Linked DNA regions of Homo sapiens: region 1 is linked to region 2. Evidence: fine-mapped expression QTL. A gene starts in region 2. The other region holds a variant in brackets. All regions are shown on one strand. Distances are between the middles of the regions. Region 1 overlaps RAP1GDS1 (Rap1 GTPase-GDP dissociation stimulator 1). Region 2 holds the start of RAP1GDS1 (Rap1 GTPase-GDP dissociation stimulator 1).

Evidence for each region.
Region 1: its variant is fine-mapped to the expression of RAP1GDS1 in CD4 T cells (Kasela 2017, PIP 0.95).

The regions. Positions count from the first base shown.
Region 1 is chr4:98,359,328-98,368,308 of GRCh38, reverse strand. All of the region lies in intron 4 of RAP1GDS1 (Rap1 GTPase-GDP dissociation stimulator 1), which reads right to left. Among named protein-coding and RNA genes, the nearest start is that of RAP1GDS1, 100 kb to the right of the region's middle. The variant G/TG (reference allele first, on the strand shown) is at 4,831.
Region 2 is chr4:98,256,324-98,265,304 of GRCh38, reverse strand. It overlaps RAP1GDS1 (Rap1 GTPase-GDP dissociation stimulator 1), which reads right to left and starts at 3,921. Exons shown (of 15, transcript NM_001100427.2): 1 at 3,736-3,921. The coding sequence starts at 3,739. RefSeq lists silencers at 3,631-3,700, 3,801-4,100 and enhancers at 4,067-4,629, 4,381-4,680.

The DNA of each region.
Region 1 (8,981 bases), 100 kb before region 2:
ACAAAAGGAAGAGGTTTAATTGGTCTTATAGTTCCGCATGGCAGGGGAAGCCTCACAATCATGGCAGAAGGCAAGGAGGAGCAAGTCACATCTTACATGGATGGCAGCAGGCAAACAGAGCTTGTGCAGGAAAACTCCCCCTTACAGTAACTATCAGATCTCATGAGACTTACTATCATGAGAACAGCACAGGAAAGATCTGCCCCCATGATTCAATTATCTCCCACTGGGTCCCTCCCACAATACATGGGAATTAAAAATGAGATTTGGGTGGGGACACAGCCAAATCATATCATTCCACCCCCGGCCCCTCCCAAATCTCATGTCCTCACATTTCAAAACCAATCATGCCTTCCCAACATTCCCCCAAATTCTTATTTCAGCATTAACTCAAAAGTCCACAGTCCAAAGTCTCATGTGAGACAAAGCAAATCCCTTCTGCCTATGAACCTGTAAAATCAAAAGCAAGTTAGTTACTTCCTAGATACAATGGGGCTATAGGCATTGGATAAACACAACCATTCCAAATGGGAGGCACTGGCCAAAACAAAGGAGCTACAGGCTGCATGCAAGTCTGAAATCCAGCAGGGCAGTCAAATCTTAAAGCTTCAAAATGATCTCTTTTGACTCCATGTCTCACATCCAAGTCACGCTGATGCAAGAGGTAGGTTCCCATGGTCTTGGGCAGCTCTGCCCTCTTGTTTGCAGGGTATAGCCCCCATCCTGGTTACTTTCATGGGCTGGTGTTGAGTGTCTGCAGCTTTTCCAGGTGCCTGGTGCAAGCTGTTGATGGATCTACCGTCCTGGGGTCTGGAGGATGGTGGCCCTCTTCTCACAGCTCCATTATGTGATGCCCCAGTAGGGACTCTGTGCGGGGGTCCAACCCCACATTTCCCTTCTGCACTGCCTTAGCAGAGGTTCTCCATGAGGGTCCCACCCCTGAAGCAAACTTCTGCCTGGCCAACCAGGTGTTTCCATACATTTCCTGCAATGTAGGTGGAGGTTCCCAAACTCAATTCTTGACTTCTGTGCACTCGCAGGATCAACACCACATAGAAGCTGCCAAGGCTTGGGGCTTCCACCCTCTGAAGCCACAGCCTGAGCTGTACCTTGGCCCCTGCTCACCATAGCTGGAGTGGCTGGAAGGCAGAGTACTAAGTTCCTAGGCTGCACAGAGTAGGCAGGCCCTAGGCCCGGCCCACAAAACCATCTTTTCTTCCTAGGCCTCCAGGCCTGTGATGGGAGGGGCTGCTGTGAAGACCTCTGACATGCTCTGGAGACGTTTTCCCCACTGTCTTGGGGATTAACATTCGGTTCCTCCTTACGCAGATTTCTGCAGATGGCTTGAAATTCTCCTCAGAAAAATAGAATTTTCTTTTCTGTCACATAGTCAGGCTGCATATTTCCAAACTTTTATGCTCTGTTTTCCTTTTAAAACTGAATGCTTTTAACAGCACCCAAGTCACCTCTTGAATGCTTTGCTGCTTAGAAATTTCTTCTGCCAGATACCTTAAATCATCTCTCTCAAGTCCAAAGTTCCACAAATCTCTAGGGCAGGGGCAAAATGCTGCCAGTCTCTTTGCTAAAACATAACAAGAATCACCTTTGCTCCAGTTTCCAACAAGTTTTTCATTTCTATCTGAGACCACCTCAGCCTGCACTTTATTGTCCATATCACTATCAGCATTTTGGGCAAAGCCATTCAAGCCTGTAGGGGTCTAAACTTGCCTACATTTTCCTGTCTTCTTCTGAGCCCTCTAAACTGCTCCAATCTCTTCCTACTACCCAGTTCCAAAGTCGCTTCCACATTTTCGGGTATCTTTTCAGCAGTGCCCCACTCCTGGTACCAATTTACTGTATTAGTTTGTTTTCATGCTGCTGATAAAGACATACCCAAGACTGAGCAATTTACAAAAGAAAGAGGTGTAATTGGACTTACAGTTCCACGTGGTTGGGAAAGCCTCACAATCATGGCTTCAAAGGCAAGGAGAAGCAAGTCATGTCTTCAATGGATGGCAGCAGGCAAAGAGAGCTTGTGCACGAAAACTCCCCCTTATAATAACCATCAGATCTCATGAGACTTACTATCACGAAAATAGCATGGGAAAGACCTGCCCCCATGATTCAATTACCTCCCACTGGGTCCCTCCCACAATACATGGGAATTCAAGATGAGATTTGGGTGAGGATGTAGCCAAACCATATCACATATATATTAAATACTTATTAACTCACCCATATTATGTTGAAAAGAGAGTGAGAGAAAGAGAACCACCACTTGTATTTACTTCAAATGACAAACATTCTGAGTAAAGAATCTGTTTGTTTCTGTCCTATTACTTGCTTCTTACTGTTTACGTTAAGGTTTCTCTGGTCACTAAAGACTTCTTTTTGGCTGCTCATGGACATGATAATATGGTTTTGCCACTTTCATCCCCGTTTTATTTCACTTAAAGCACAGAATTAGAAAATATTTTGTTAGAGAGCTACTAAACTGAAAAGCTTACTTTGCTGTGCCAATAGAGATATTTAAAAGGGTATATTAACAATCAGTAAAAATCGAACAAAAGTGATAAAAAGTAACATTTAAAAAAAGTTAGATGTGTATAAATTCCTTATATCATTATTGCAGGAAAAAGTGAATTTATTCAGAACAATTAGAAGGACAGTATTATTTTATTTTTTTGAGACAGGGTCTTGCTCTGTTGCCCAGGCTGGAATGCAGTGGCACAATCTCCACTCACTGCAGCCTCGATCTCCCAGGCTCAAGCGATCCTCCCACATCAGCCTCCCAAGTAGCAGGGTCTATAGGTGCATGCCACCACAACAGGCCAATTATTGCACTTTTTTGTAGAGAGGGGATAGGGGGTTCCGCCATGTTGCCCAGGCTGGTTTCAAACTCCTGAGCTCAAAGGATCTGCTCACCTCAGCCTCCCAAAGTGCTGGGATTACAGGTGTGAGCCATGATGCCTGGCTCAATTTTAATTTTTCTTTATACACCTTGTGTGTAAAGAAAACAATACAAAGCAATAGATACTTGTCTGCAAACTTGAAGAACATACCTGTATTTGTCTAGCTGGTTTACTGGGAAGAGTCAAACTCTCAAATTTTTAATTGGGTTTCCTTAGGTATTACTAAGAATCCAATCAAATCTGAACATCCTTTATTCCCAATGAGTTTAAAAGGGAAGTCAGTATTTCACACACTTCTCTACAGAGAAAATGTCAAGAATAAATCAAATATAATAAAGAATGTTTATTCACATACATACTTTTTTTTTCTTTTTTTGAGACAGGGTCTTCTTGCTCTGTCACCCAGGCTGGAATGCAGTGGCCTGATCAGAGTTCACTGCAGCCTTGACTTTCTGGGCTCAAGTCTCAGCCTCTGGAGTAGCTGGGATTACAGGTGTGTGCCACCACGCCAGGCTAATTCTTTTACTTTTTTGTAGAGATGGGATCTCCCTATGTTGCTCTGGTGGGTCTTGAACTCCTGGACTCCAGTGATCCTCCAGCCTTAGCCTCCCCAAAATGCTGGGATTACAGGTGTGAGCCACTGCACCCAGCCCTCACATCATACTTTTTTTTTTTTAAATAAAGCTTTTATACTTGGAAAAATGTAAAAAGTTTTTCCTCCATCACTTGGTTCTACTCTATGTTCTTTCAATTAGGTAAATTTTATTTTTGTGTTCTTTAAACAAATTAAACAAAATGTTGGCTTAAGAACAGCTTTTAGTAAAATCCTTAAAACATATTCCAAAACCTGCGTGCTCAGAATTATTCACACTGAAGCATAAATGTATTTAATGACAGTGCATTTATGTATTTGACAGTGATAACTTCCTCAGATATATTTACGGAAACAATGAACCTGAGATCTGGTTTTCAGATCAACACTATCACCAATTTAGCTGTTGATTCTGATAAGTCACTTGAATTTTCAGGTCTCAGTTTTTTTATCTGTAAAATTTGGCAGGGGTGGCTGAGATGACTTTTAAATTCCCTCCTACGTAAAAAACTATGATTTCAAGGTAGTTTTATTCACTTAAGCTTTCTAATTTCTCTTGGTTCCCTGAATCTACATATTCCATCTAAGAAACAGTTAACAACATTTTGCTAAATGCAGGAGATTATTTTAACTTTTTGAATATTTATTCCCCAAAGGTAAAAGAATATAAAGATATAGAAATCGCCTATGTGCCATTTCTTCTTGTGTCTCTATGAAGAATCTCAGACTTAATAATGCCTGCAGCAAAACAAAATAAAAACAAGCAGCAATGACGGAAAAACCCAGAAACAAAAAACAACCTCTGTTCTTTCCTACATCGGCAAATTGCCCCATCTTCTGTCCAGGTACTCAAGTCCTAGAAATCACTCTTGATTTCTCCCTTTCGCACTTTCCCAATCCAATCCATCACTCCAAATACTTTCTAAGTTCCTCCTCCTTCCACACTACCATAACTTAATCCAAGTTACCATTATGTTGTGACTGGACAATCACAAAAGTCTTTCAATTAGTCTCAATGCTTCCCTTCTTAACTCTTAATTTCCATGCTTCTCAACTCCTTTTCCATGCAGCTCCAAGAGTGATGTTTTTAGAATCCAAATCAGATCATGTCACTTCTTGCCTTCAACAACTTCTCACTACTTCAAGATGATTCATGAGGCTTTCTATCATCAACACTTTTGTTTGTTTCTTGAACTTTATCACACAATACTCCCTGTTCACAGTATCTTGCATAACCTGGTTTCCTTTCTGAATTTCTACCAAATCCCTTGCCCTCTCAGGGCTTTACAATTACTACACTTTTTTTTTTTTTTTTTTTTTTTTTTT[G/TG]AGACAGGGTCTCACTGTTATTTAGGCTGGAGTGCTGTGGTGTGATGGCTCACTGCAGCCTAGAACTCCTGGGCTCAAGTGATCCTCCCACCTCAGCCTCCAGAGTAGCTGGGATTACAGACACGTGCCACCATAATGGCTCATTTTTTATTTTGTAGAGACAGAGTCTTGCTGTGTTGCCCAGGCTGGTCTCAAACTCCTGGCCTCAAGCAGCCCTTGAGCCTTGCCATCCCAAAATTCTGGGATTACAGATGTGAGCCACCACACTTAGCTCAATTACTCTACTTCTATAAGGAATATTCTTCCTCTTCTCTTAGCTGGCTCATTCTCATTTTCCAGACCTCAGCTTAAATAACATCCACAGAGAGAACTTTCTTCACCCTCAAATACACTCCATTATTATACATCACCTTCTTTATTCCCTTGATGTCAGTCATCACAATCTATAAATATCTTTTCTGTAGTATTTACTTGTTTATTATCTACCTCCTCCTGTGAAAGCCTCACAAGGATAGAGACTTCTTGCTCATTCTTTCCCCTATAATCCCCATCACAGGCAGTGTCCCCTAAACATAGTTGGTTCAATCAATATGTGTGGATTTAATTGTAGTATGTATACACCAAAGAATACAAAGACATAGAGTGAGAATTTCCTGGCATTTACTCATTATTTCATATCTTCTCAGTACATACATTTTGTAAGTACAATCATTACTATAAAAATATGTGACCTATATCCTCAAAGGGAGAGAACAATAATTTGTGGTGTTAAAAAGGAAGTTTTCACACTCAAAGAGATTAGAAGTCAGGGATGTAAATCATGAGCAGCAACGTATTTTTCTAAGTCTGAAATACTGGCCATTCTGATCTGCATGATTATGAAGGCTTTTTTTTTCCCATTCCTATTAAATATACTGCTTTTAATTTTGCCAAGTTCTATTTTAATTTCCTGGAGCAGGGAAATGGTAATAGACATACCTACATTGTGTTAGTTGTTGTCTGTTTTCAGACAAGGTCTTGCTCTGTCACCCAGGCTGGAGTGTGGTAGCACAATCATGTCTCCCTGCAGCCTTGAACTCCCAGGCTCGTGTCATCCTACCTCAGCCTCCTGAGTAGCAGGACTACAGAAGTGCTCCATCATGCACAGCTAAATTTATTTTTTGTAGAGATGCGATCTTGCTATGACGCCCAGGCTAATCTTGCACTCCTGGGCTCAAGTGATCCTCTCACCTTAGCCTCTGAAAATGTTAGGATCACAGCTGTGAGCCACCACATGCAGACCCTACATTGTTTTTCAAGATAAAGTTAAAATGTATTTATGAAGTCTACTAGGAAAGAAAATTAAATTCTAATGCTTACATTTCCCCCTATAATTTTGCCAACAGTGAATTTCTATTATGTACCTTAGACATAATCGAATGTTTTCAGCATTCAAATAAAAAAGCTCATGAATATCGTTTCTAAAACTCAAAACGCAATTTATTCACCTTCCAGATTCAGGCAAAATCCCTGAAAGACTAGATATAAAAGCAAAAGCTATAACATATTACATAAGTAAAATCACAAAAATGAGTCATGAAGAAAAAGCCACCATGACTGTTAAGTGCACACATATCAAAAGAGAAGCATGCAATTTGCAATTTTGTGACATTATATTCAGGTTTAAAAATCTGCATTTAGGTGGGAAAATTTCAAGGTGTATATACATTTACACTTGTAATGCCAGATCAGGAAAAGTAAATGAATTAAATCTTTCATTTCCCAAAGCACTAGTACCAAGGGCACAGCATAAAATGAGGTTATGGCCCAGCATTTGATGGACACAGTTTTTGGTGTGCCTGCTGATACTAGTATTAATTTCTGTTGTCCAACAGATTTCTCACATTAGTTAAAATTGTTCAATAATTCTACTTTTTCAAAAACCCTTTATCTAATAAAGGCTCCATAAATGGCAATACATTTCCTAAAGAAATTACTAAAGCTTTCTTTACTCCCTATATTTTTATATTTCTGTATCATTTTATTAGCAAAAGACTGAATATCTTTATACACAAATTATAAAGTCATTTAACTCAATTATTTCCATAAAAGTTACTTTTACATAGCATTTAGATAATAATGTATGTAATTTATTGTTCCAATTTATTACTCCAATTGTTCAAGATCAAAACGTTTTATAAATATTTTAAATATAAAAGGTGTTTTTGTACCAAACTATTTCATACTTAAATTATGCTAGACTATATATATATGTATATATATATGTGTGTGTGTGAGAGCAAATGCATATATAGTTATTTAGAATTTAATCTGAACTGATGACAGCATAGTTTCTCAACGGGTAAAAACATTTTACTCAGCAGGAAAAATGTAAATTATTCACTCTTTTTTTTTTTTTTTTTGAGACAGAGTCTCACTCCGTCACCTAGGCTGGAGTACAGTGCTGTGATCTTAAATCACTGCCTCCTGGGTTCAAGCAATTCTCATGCCCCAGCCTCCCAAAGCTGGAATTACAGGTATATGCCACCATGCCTGGCTAGTTTTGTTTTGTTTTGTTTTCTTTTTAAAAAGTAGAGATGGGGTTTCACCATGTTGACCAGACTGCTCTTGAACTCCTGACCTCAAGTGATCCACCTGCCTCGCCCTCCCAAAATGATGGGATTACAAGCGTGAGCCACTATGCCTGGCCCTGAATTATTCACTTTTACGTAGCATTTATTTTTCATATTTCCTCACCGCCAAGGAAAATGCACCCTACTTGTAGCAAGGAAAAGGCTGATTAAAAGTTGAGAAAGTTCTCAGTACTTCAACTTGGTTACAAATAAGAAAATTTTAAAAATGTAAACAAAACCCTATTAAAAAGAGCAGAGGATAATATGTGTTGACAGGGTTTCAATAAGCAGACTGGAAATCTTATGTTTCACATATCTAAACTTTGACTTTAACAGGTGAAATGAGAGTGGTAAAGGTAAGGGGAAAAAACAGATTTAGACAAAAAATGTTTTTAAACCCCCAAGTAGGCCTCTATAATTAGACTTTTCCCACCCTACCTAAGTCCTCTTAATGAGGAAAGGAAAGTTCTAAAGCCATTCAGACTTCTGACTCAGAGAATGGGGGTGGGGTTGGGGGGGAAGGCAACCATATATGACTTCTTATTGAACCCAAGAAAAATCATCTAATATTTTTGCCACGTGCAATACTCTCTCACAGGTTGCCTCTACTTTCGTATCTATAAAATTAAGAACAATTACTCGAAATTACTATTTCATGTCTTCCCTAAGACATTAGCTTTTTATAACATAGTATTTGGAAAGTAATCAAGCATGGGGAAAAAAGCAGTAATATGTGTTCTTTGTCCTACAATTTTAAGGTAAACTTTATAGAATCTTGGATTTCCAAACACCATTTAATAAAAGAGGGATTTAAATTTAATACCAAGTACAAAAATGGAAAGATCATAGTTTCTCAAAGTGTAAACTATCTGAAGAGATAGAGTACTTTACATTGCTTAAATAAACCTGGTGCAGTGCTACGCAAAAACCAGCCAAACTGATAATAAACTATCTGAGTACTGTCTCTCACTTTACAATATAATTTCGTTCTCTCTGCCGCAGTCACTATTTACCACACCACACCCGGCCTCCTGTAATGGCTTCCTGATATCTCTGCCTCACATCTCTGTCCATTCCAATTAGACTATATGATGCTACAAAACTGAAAATATCAATTTCTTCAAGTTACTTTCAGAGGCTCCTTCCTGTCCACATATCAAAGTCAAAATAATTCCTTAGCCTATAGACATTTTAAGCACACTATACATTAATGGATGCACAATCAAGATCTCTACCATAGCATACCTATATTACTATTTGGCTATTTTAAAAAATCGTATCTTCATGATTTACATGTCCTACAGCCCCAATTTTGAACTTTCCCCCAAAACCACAAACTTCCTACCATCATTTTGGTGTTGACTTTTATTAACAGATGAGCCTGACATCTACCTTACTGGGAAGACAGAACTATACCCAGAAATACACTTTTGAGTGCCCTCTTTACTACTTAAAGGTTTTTTTATACTTTCATTTATCTTCTGTCTTTTATTCTCTATGGCAGAAATGTCCTTTCTCATTTTAATATCAACCTGTTTA
Region 2 (8,981 bases):
GAGATTCTCGTATCCTCATTATCACCCAGGCTAAAACCTGTGACTCTCAATTCCATACTCAATGGGTTGCCAAGTAAATCCTATTCTTTATTTGCAATATTCTATTCCCGTTGCCATAACCTGGTTCAAGCCATTAAACATTTTCGTCCAAACTCCAACAACAATCTTCTGAAGTGTTCTGTAGTTTCTCATCTAATCGATCCTGCACTCAACTGACAAATTTTCCTATACCACAGATGTGATCCATCACTTAACTACATAAAAATGTTTAGTGGTCTCTCAATAGGTAAGTCAGATTAAAATTCTTCAGCTTGGCATTTTAGATCCTACATTATCTGGTCATTAGCTATTACTGTACTACTTTTTCATGTCTGTTACCCACTATTTCCTTACCTTTTGCTCTAGCCAAACAATGCTGTTTAATCATATCCTGGAAATTCATAAAATGTTTCCTATCTATCTTCATTTATGTCATTTCTCTTCCAACCCCAGACCAACTCCATTCTGATTAACAGTCTCATTTCTACCTTTAAGAAGTTTAACCCACCTTTGGTTCAAATAACACCATTTCTCTAAAACGTTCTCTCCATTCTCTGAATCTATAATATATGTAAAGGTCTTTTATATAACTTATACTTTTACTTCTATTATAATTTGTGTATGTGTCATATTGTTCCTGCTAAGATTATAAATGTGAAACATGAATATCTTTTTATCTTTGTCCTCCCAGTACACTGTAGTACAGTACACTGCACAGTTGATATCCAACAAACACTAAATGTATGTTGAATCTGAAATATGACATATACATAAAATAGTAGCTATGGCCATAAAGTTATATAGGACTTTTCTTTCACTCTCTTGTGTAGGAAATTATTGCCATGAGAATATATATATATATTTTTTTTGAGACAGAGTTTCCCTCTTGTTGCCCAGGCTGGAGTGCAATGGCATGATCTCGGCTCACTGCAAACTCCGCCTCCCGGGTTCAAGTGATTCTCCTGCCTCAGCCTCCCAAACAGCTGGGATTACAGGCGCCCGCCACCACACCCGGCTAATTGTTTTTTTGTATTTTTAGTAGAGACAGGGTTTTACCATGTTAGTCAGGCTGGTCTCCAACTCCTGACCTCAGGTGATCCGCCCGCCTCGGCCTCCCAAAGTGCGCGCCCGGCTGAGACTATCTTTAAAAATCAACCTTATTTATTTCTTGAGACAAATTAAAAAGCACTTCTCCCTCCCCTCATCATTAACCAGTATACCTTCTACCTTCTTATGTGTACATGAATTGTTATACTAACTTCCTTGGCCCAGATATAAAACTGTTCCCCAAGGTTTCAATTTTAAATTATCATATGTACCTACTGATCATACATGAAACTGCCTTACCATTGAAGAGAGTTTAGAAGGAAACAGATTGCCTGAGGTTGACTCAAAACCAACCTACAGTGTACTGGGAGGCATGGTACAATTATACCTTTCTGTTTCTGCTTATCCCCCAACTAGATAATATGTACCAACCCAAATGTTTGTTCAGATGAAGACTATATCTTCAGGTTCAAAAGTTGAAAATAATAGGTGGCTTTAAGTTCAACAATTTGCCAAAGATTTACTGAATTTCTATTTGAAAAGCACTGTGGGGAACACAAAAAATAATAAGACACTTTTCATCTTCTGGGACTCATGATTAAATGCACAGCACACACATAAACAACTTTATTATATGGTAGATTACGTAAGTGCTAAAAAGCTTCTAACAAGGTACAAACAGTGCTTATGAAGAGACAGATTAACCAAAGAGTATCAGAGATGGCTTCAAAATGAGAGATAGGTTTCTATTTGGCCCTTTTTAAAAATCAAGCAATAGCACTCAAGATTTTGAAGATTATTTTTAAGTAGATAATTTCTTTTAGGTATTTTTATTCACCAGTGTTGTAACGGAATTGGATTTTTTCCACTGAAAAAGTACGGATTTAACATGTAAGCTAAAATGTTAAATGGATTGTTTAAGGCTCACCTGGAAACATGGGAAAATATATTTTGCAAGCCAAACTTGAACTTACAGTCCAATATCAGATAGGGTTATTGGACATACTGTATATTTCCTTTGAACATACACACACTTATCTGTGTATGTATGTTCAAAGGAATTTTATTTCAAAGTGTATTTTATCTGTGTATGTTCAAAGGGAACACACATAAACGTGTGTATGTTCGACGGAAATATACAGCTTGTCCAATAATCTGATATAATACCTATTTAAAAATCTACTTTAAGAGAAAGGCAGACACGCATAAATGGGCCACCCAATTTTTACAGAAATTTGTTCAGCATATCGAGTACTCACGTTAAAAAGAAAAAACAACTGAAAATAAAATTCAGAGCCCTAGACCTTTTTTGATTCATACCACCTCCTCCGTCAACCCTGGCCTCTTCCAGATATATGGCCAAAGGTCGGGATCAAAGCCTGAAGCATTTGCTGTTCCAGAAAACTCTATGGACACCATTCCCAGGTTTAGATACTTCTTGAAGATTCTGAGTTGCACCACCTAACTCTGAACGTGTTGAGCACTGTATTAACAGATGAAAGGACCACATTCATCTCAAGCTTTAAATAACTCGCACAGAAGGGGTGGGAAAAGTCCCAGCTGACAGATGCCAAGGGAGCAAATTTTAAAAAGAGGAAATTATGACAGACAGGAGTGGAAGCAAACTGGGGAACTTAGTACAAGTCGCTACTATTAAAAGAAACTTTGAGCTCTTAATTACATGACAGCATTCATCAGACGTTTCTGTGATTACTGAATGTAACAGTTAAGCAATAGATGATGTAAAAAAATTAGGTCAAATGTATATATCGTTTTATAAAACATATTTGCTCTTAAATCTCTCATCCAAACCAATCTCTTCAGATTAACTATAAATACAAAGGAACTAAAATCAGATTATGCAGATTAGACAGGAGGAAGCTGGGAAAGAATAACTACCATGTAAGTTCGGTAACAACGTTACAGGGCGCAGTTTCCTGCTACAGAAGACGGACGAAGGAATCCAGAAAATAGGCTGGGCACGGGAATATTGCACACTGTAGTCACCCAGCACTAATTCAACAGCTAGCGGCTCTATCCTGCCTCACGTTCCTCGTGGCCTCTGACAAGTCATCCTTTCAACCTATGAGGCTGTCCGCTCTCCCCCTTGGAAAATAATTTCCGTGCAGGTTGTAAGATCTCCCTCACAAACTACTTGCTTCCACTTCCCCGCCCGGGATGAGGAGTCTCCACGACGGGGAAAGGTCGCACTGACAGAGAAGGAAGTTACACGAAGTGGTAGTGGTCGGACCCGAGCCTCGAGCTCAGTACACGCGGGGGAAAAGGAAGCGGGCGGCCTCTGGAGAAACGGGGATGGAGCTGCAGATGCGAGCCCGCGAGGCAGGCTCCGTGGTGCCCGGGCACCGGCAGGAAGAATGGAGGAGGGGAGGCGAGGCTGCGAGGTGCCGGGGAGCCGGGCGGCGGTCCGGCCCGCGGCCGACCCCACCCCAGCCCGCGCTCGGGACCCTCCCAGCCCCGGCACCCGGCGTGCGTTCCGCGTGCGCCGACTCTCCCCGGAGGAACAGCCACCGTCTCACACCCGGGGACTGGAGAAATCCGGCAACTTTGCGCGAGAAATGCTTCCCACCCTGCAGCACGCCGAGAAAGAAAAAAATGTCAGGCGATGACGGCGGAGGAAGGATGACTTACCCATGTTGCTCCCCGAGGGTGAGGAACCGGCGGGGCGAGGCGAAGGTCTGTGGTGCGGGCGGCGCGGCTCTGTGTCCTCCCTCTACCTCCGTCTCTCCCGCAGCCAGGGAGGGACCCGCGGGGGGCGGCCGCCGGGGAGGAGCAGCTGGTGCTGCTGCAGGCGGCGCGGCCGCGGCGGGGACGAGCGGCGGGGGGCGGGGCGGGGCGGGGCGGGGCGGGACTGGCGGGCGCAGCCTGCGGCGGGCGCGGCTCCGAGCGGGCGGGCGGCGGAGGCGCGGGAGCCGGCCTGAAGAGCTCCGGCCCCGACTCGCAGCCCACGAGCGCCCCGCCCTCCCCACCGAGCATGCTCAGTGCCTTTTCCACCCCTCCCTCTGTGGCGAGCGAGGCTAAGCGTGCGGGTGGGCGTGTGTTTGCAGACCGGCTGCAGCCGCGGCAGAGGATCTTCATGGCGGCCGCCTGAGAGGCGGAGGGCGGGCCCGGAGAAAACAGGGAATGGGGATATTGAGCCCGATCTGCTAGCAGAGGACTCACCGCTGCCTTGCTTTCCCACCCTGACCCACCAACCCCTCACCCGGAACCCGGGCTTGCCTTCTTTACGGGACGACCGGGCCGCACAGGCCGGAATTAACCGGAGAAGAGGCTGGGCCGCCGCAGAGCCGGGAGGGGTGGTGGGAAGCCAGAGCTGACGAAGTTGGAAAGGACGTGTAGGCGACTAGGCCTGCGCCTCTTGGGGACACCTGAGGACGCCCGCTGGGCAGCTGGCTGAGGAGGGGCCGCCGGGAGGGCGCTCGATAGCAGGCGTGTCATTGGGACACTTAAGGCTGCTCTAGCTGTGGCCAGCTTAGAAACAAAGGTCCCGGCAGCGAGGAGAGCGCCCGCCCCAGGATTTCCTCGAAGAGTGTGTCGTTCTCCCTCCCGGAGGAGCGCGGCCTTCCGTTCCCCGGAGGGCTCTGGAAAGGCCCTTTAACCGGGGTGCCGTCGGGCTCCATCCTGCTGTGAAAGCGGGAGGAACTACGTTCCCCAGGCTTGAAAATAAGCGTCCTGCTGGGTTGGCTGCGGCACTGCCAAAGCTAACCCGGCGGAGGTCCTTTGATCCCGGGGCCACCGCCCGCTCCCACCACCACCTCGGCCTCGGGGAGAACCTGAGCAGGGCTCTCCCACTGAGGGCGTCCTCCCGACTGGGCATGCACGTGAGGCCGGGGCTGGCTTCGGTCCTCTTCCCTGGGGTAGGAGGCTGGAGGAAACCGATTTCTCTGCACCCTAATCTTGCCCTGGCTCCTCCTGAGTGGGGTGAGGAATCTGGTCGCTCTCCAAGGCTACAGCGACCGGAGTCCTTCAGGGGACACTGTGCAGTCAGCAGTACAACCTGTTGGAGAAAGATGGCTGAATCGAGGTGTCTTTCCCCTGTCAACTTTCACTCGGTCAATCCAATGTTGAGAAAGGGCTTTTTTTGTTTGTTTGTTAATTAGTCGCCTATTCTCACAGTCATCAGTTTCTGCTTGGTGACTAGTATTTCGAGCACACAAATCAGAAGCGACCCTGTAATTTGTTAAGCAAAGAGCAGATTTTATGTGATTTTTCTACAGCAAGAAACGATAATTAAAAAGGTTTGGTAAAACAGGAAAATACAATTTAACTGCTGAAGTCAAATATATGGGACTTTTCTGATGCATGAGACTATCAGGCACCTCACTCTTAGGATGTTCTTCTTGTTTGCCTCTTAAAATAATCGCACTACATTAGTTCCCTAGGGCTGCCGTAACATACCACAAATTGGGTGACTTAAAACAACAAATTATTATCTCACAATTCTGGAGGCCAGAAGTTTGAAATCAAGGTGTAGGCAGGGCTGTACTCCCTCTGAGGGCACTGGGGAGGGATCTCGTCCATGCCTCTCCTAGCTTCTGGTAGTTTCTTGGCATATGGTAGCGTAACTCCAATCTGAACATGGCTGTTCTCCCAGTGTGCTTGTGTGTTCAAATTTCCCTTTTTAATAAGAACAGCAGTCATAACGGATTAGGGGCGAACCATCCTCCAGTATGACCTCATGGACGTTAATTATATCTGCAATGACCCTATTTCCAAATCAGGTCACATTCTAAGGGACTAAGGGTTAGGACTTCTACATATGAATAGGGCCAGCCTGGCCAACATGACGAAACCCCATCTCTAACTAAAAATACAAAAAATTAGCCAGGGCCAGGCACAGTGGCTCACGCCTGTAATCCTAACACTTTGGGAGGCTCAGGAGGGCAGATCACTTAAGTCAGGAGCTGGAGATCAGCCTGGCCAACATGGCAAAACCCTATTTCTACTAAAAAATAAATAAAATAAATAAATTAGCTGGGCATGGTGGCACGTGTCTGTAATCCCAGCTACTTGGGAGGCTGAGGCAGGAGAATCGCTTGAACCCGGGAGGCGGAGGTTGCAGTGAGCTGAGATTGCACCACTGCACTCCAGCCTGGGCCACAGAGCAAGACCCTGTCTCAAAAAAAATAAAAATAAAAAAAAAGAATCCGGGAGGGGTACACAATTCAACCCATAATACACCAATGCAGACCCCACCCTCAGGGCCCCTCACTGCCCCCACATCGGCCATGTTACACATTAATTTTATTACTCCTCCAGAAGACCAGCCTGGGCCTTTGCATTGCTGCTCATCATTTTTTGTTCATCTCTCCTTAACACTCATTAATCTCTTCCAGATTGTCAAGTTAACTTGCTTTATTTTTCCTACTTCCTTATCTAATTACATATTATAATAATTTCATGGAGTATCTTCTATCATTTATTTGGATGTAAGCGTTGAAATTAGCAAAAGCAGCTGAAGTGGCTTTCTCATTTCCCATCTGACACTAGTTAAAGTGCCTTTTTTGTTCTACTTCAATCTACAAGCCATCTCCTTAGCCTTCCTGCCAATTAAAACCAAAGGATTGTTCAGGCTTAGTGCATATACTGAGTCCTAATGCACCGGTGTTGTAACCATAGTGAGAACCAATACTGATTGTTATATGCAGAAGTGAATTACTTCCAGACTGGTATATTGCCTACTCCTTGCACACACAATGCCACCTCCCTTCCCCTCTCCTTTCTTGTTCTATTATAAGAATATAATGTTTCTGTCTCATATCTTTACTTTCTTCCTTTATGTCTTTATTCAAAAGTTACCTGCATGATGTCTTCCCTAGTTATCTTATCTAAAATTTCAACACTCCTTCCCATTTCATATCCCCACTTCTATACTTTATTTTTTTTCCTTAGCAGTTATCAATAAGATAATATATATTTTGCTTTTGGACTGTCTCCCACATTTAAATGTAAGTTCTCCTAGGGAAATAATTTTTGTCTGCTGTATTTACCATTATAACCCCCGTGCCTAAATAGTGCTAGCACATAGCAAGTGCTTAATAAAAATTTGCTAGGTATGGTGGCTCACACCTATAATTCCAGCACTTAGGGAGGCCGAGGAGGGAGGATCACTTGAGGTCAGGATTCTGAGAGCAGCCAGTACAAGATAGCAACACCTTATATCTACATCTCTTGACATCCCTGATGTCAAGAGACTCTTCCAAAATCGATCTACTAATACCCATACTGTATGTTAGGCAATGGTCAGGATTTTATCAGGCCTGCTACAAAACAAAGGAAGTTCTGGCCCAGTGCAAAGGTTTTCAACTTCAATCTAGGAAATGTCATATTTATAAAGTATCACGGATTTATTTGAATAACAATTTCTGTTGAAAATTGGTTTATGATTACTAAATAGCTGTTATGGGGGAGTATCAAGGAAAATGTCTTTTAGAAAAGATCAGAAGCAGTACATTTTGGCAAGACTTATAACTTACCTCATTGATGCATGTAAGCTTAAAGAGGTTAGAAGGTGATTTAAATTCTTTAGAGGAAATCTATTGGGAGGGGCAACACAACAAGAAGTGGAAAGAGAGGAGAGAATGTTCTTTAAAAGTATAATAGGGAACTGATTGCCTCCTGTTCACCATGATGTTCTGAATATCATTTAAGGGAATTTCACTGGAGTAGTTAATTGAACTTTGCGGTGATAGAAAATGATTTGGCAGTGAACAGCCTTCTGCCTAAACTGTTTATTTTTCAGAGACTTCATTGGTGAGATCAAGTTAGTCCAGGTTGAACAACTGAAATGTCTTAACCTCAATGTAACCTCTTTCTCCCCCGCTCTCCATTTATTTAATATTTTAGCCATTTTCTAAATGTTGTAAAATCTAAATTATTTTCATAGGCTGTCACCTCAAACTAATGTCTACATGTTTCAAGCAACAACAGACCTAGATTACATACAGTTTTTAGATGGGATATACCACTTTAAAATCAGTCATGTAGTTATTGAACATTTCTTCTGAGCTCAGCACTGTGCTAGATGCTATAAAAGAACAGCTATAAGGGCCAGGCGCGGTGGCTCATGCCTGTAATCCCAGCACTTTGGGAGGCCGAAGCGGGTGGATTACGAGGTCAGGAGATCGAGACCATCCTGGCTAACATGGTGAAACCCCGTCTCTACTAAAAATACAAAAATAAACCAGGCATGGTGGCGGGCACCTGTAGTCCCAGCTACTCGGGAGGCTGAGGCAGGAGAATGGCGTGAACCCGGGAGGCAGAGCTTGCAGTGAGCCGAGATCGTGCCAGTGCATTCCAGCCTGGGCGACAGAGCAAGACTTCGTCTCAAAAAAAAAAAAAAAAAAAAAAAGAAATAGCTATAAGTACATATCATGCAAAACAAGAGAGTAAGAACAATCTCTCTTAAAAGTCTCTTCCTACTAGTTAAAGATAGCTGTATAAGGAGAACATACCTGAAGAATGGATAGAATTTTTCCGAGAAAGGATGGGAAGAAAAGAATTTACTCCAAGACAGGGAAACAGCATGTGGTAAGACACCTATAGGCCATATTCATAAGACCATTAAAAAGGGTACATATTGGCCGGGTGCGGTTGCTCACACCTGTAATCCCAGCACTTTGGGAGGCCGAGGCAGGCGGATCACTTGAAGTCAGGAGTTCAAGACCAGCCTGGCCAACATAGCGAAACCTCTTCTCTACTAAAAATACAAAAATTAGCTGGGCGTGGTGGCGCGTGCCTGTGGTCCCAGCTACTTGGGAGACTGAGGCAGGAGAATCACTTTAACCCAGGAGGTGGAGGTTGCGGTGAGCCAAGATCACACCACTGCACTCCAGCCTGGGTGAGGGAGTGAGACTCTGTCTCAAAAAAAAAAAAAC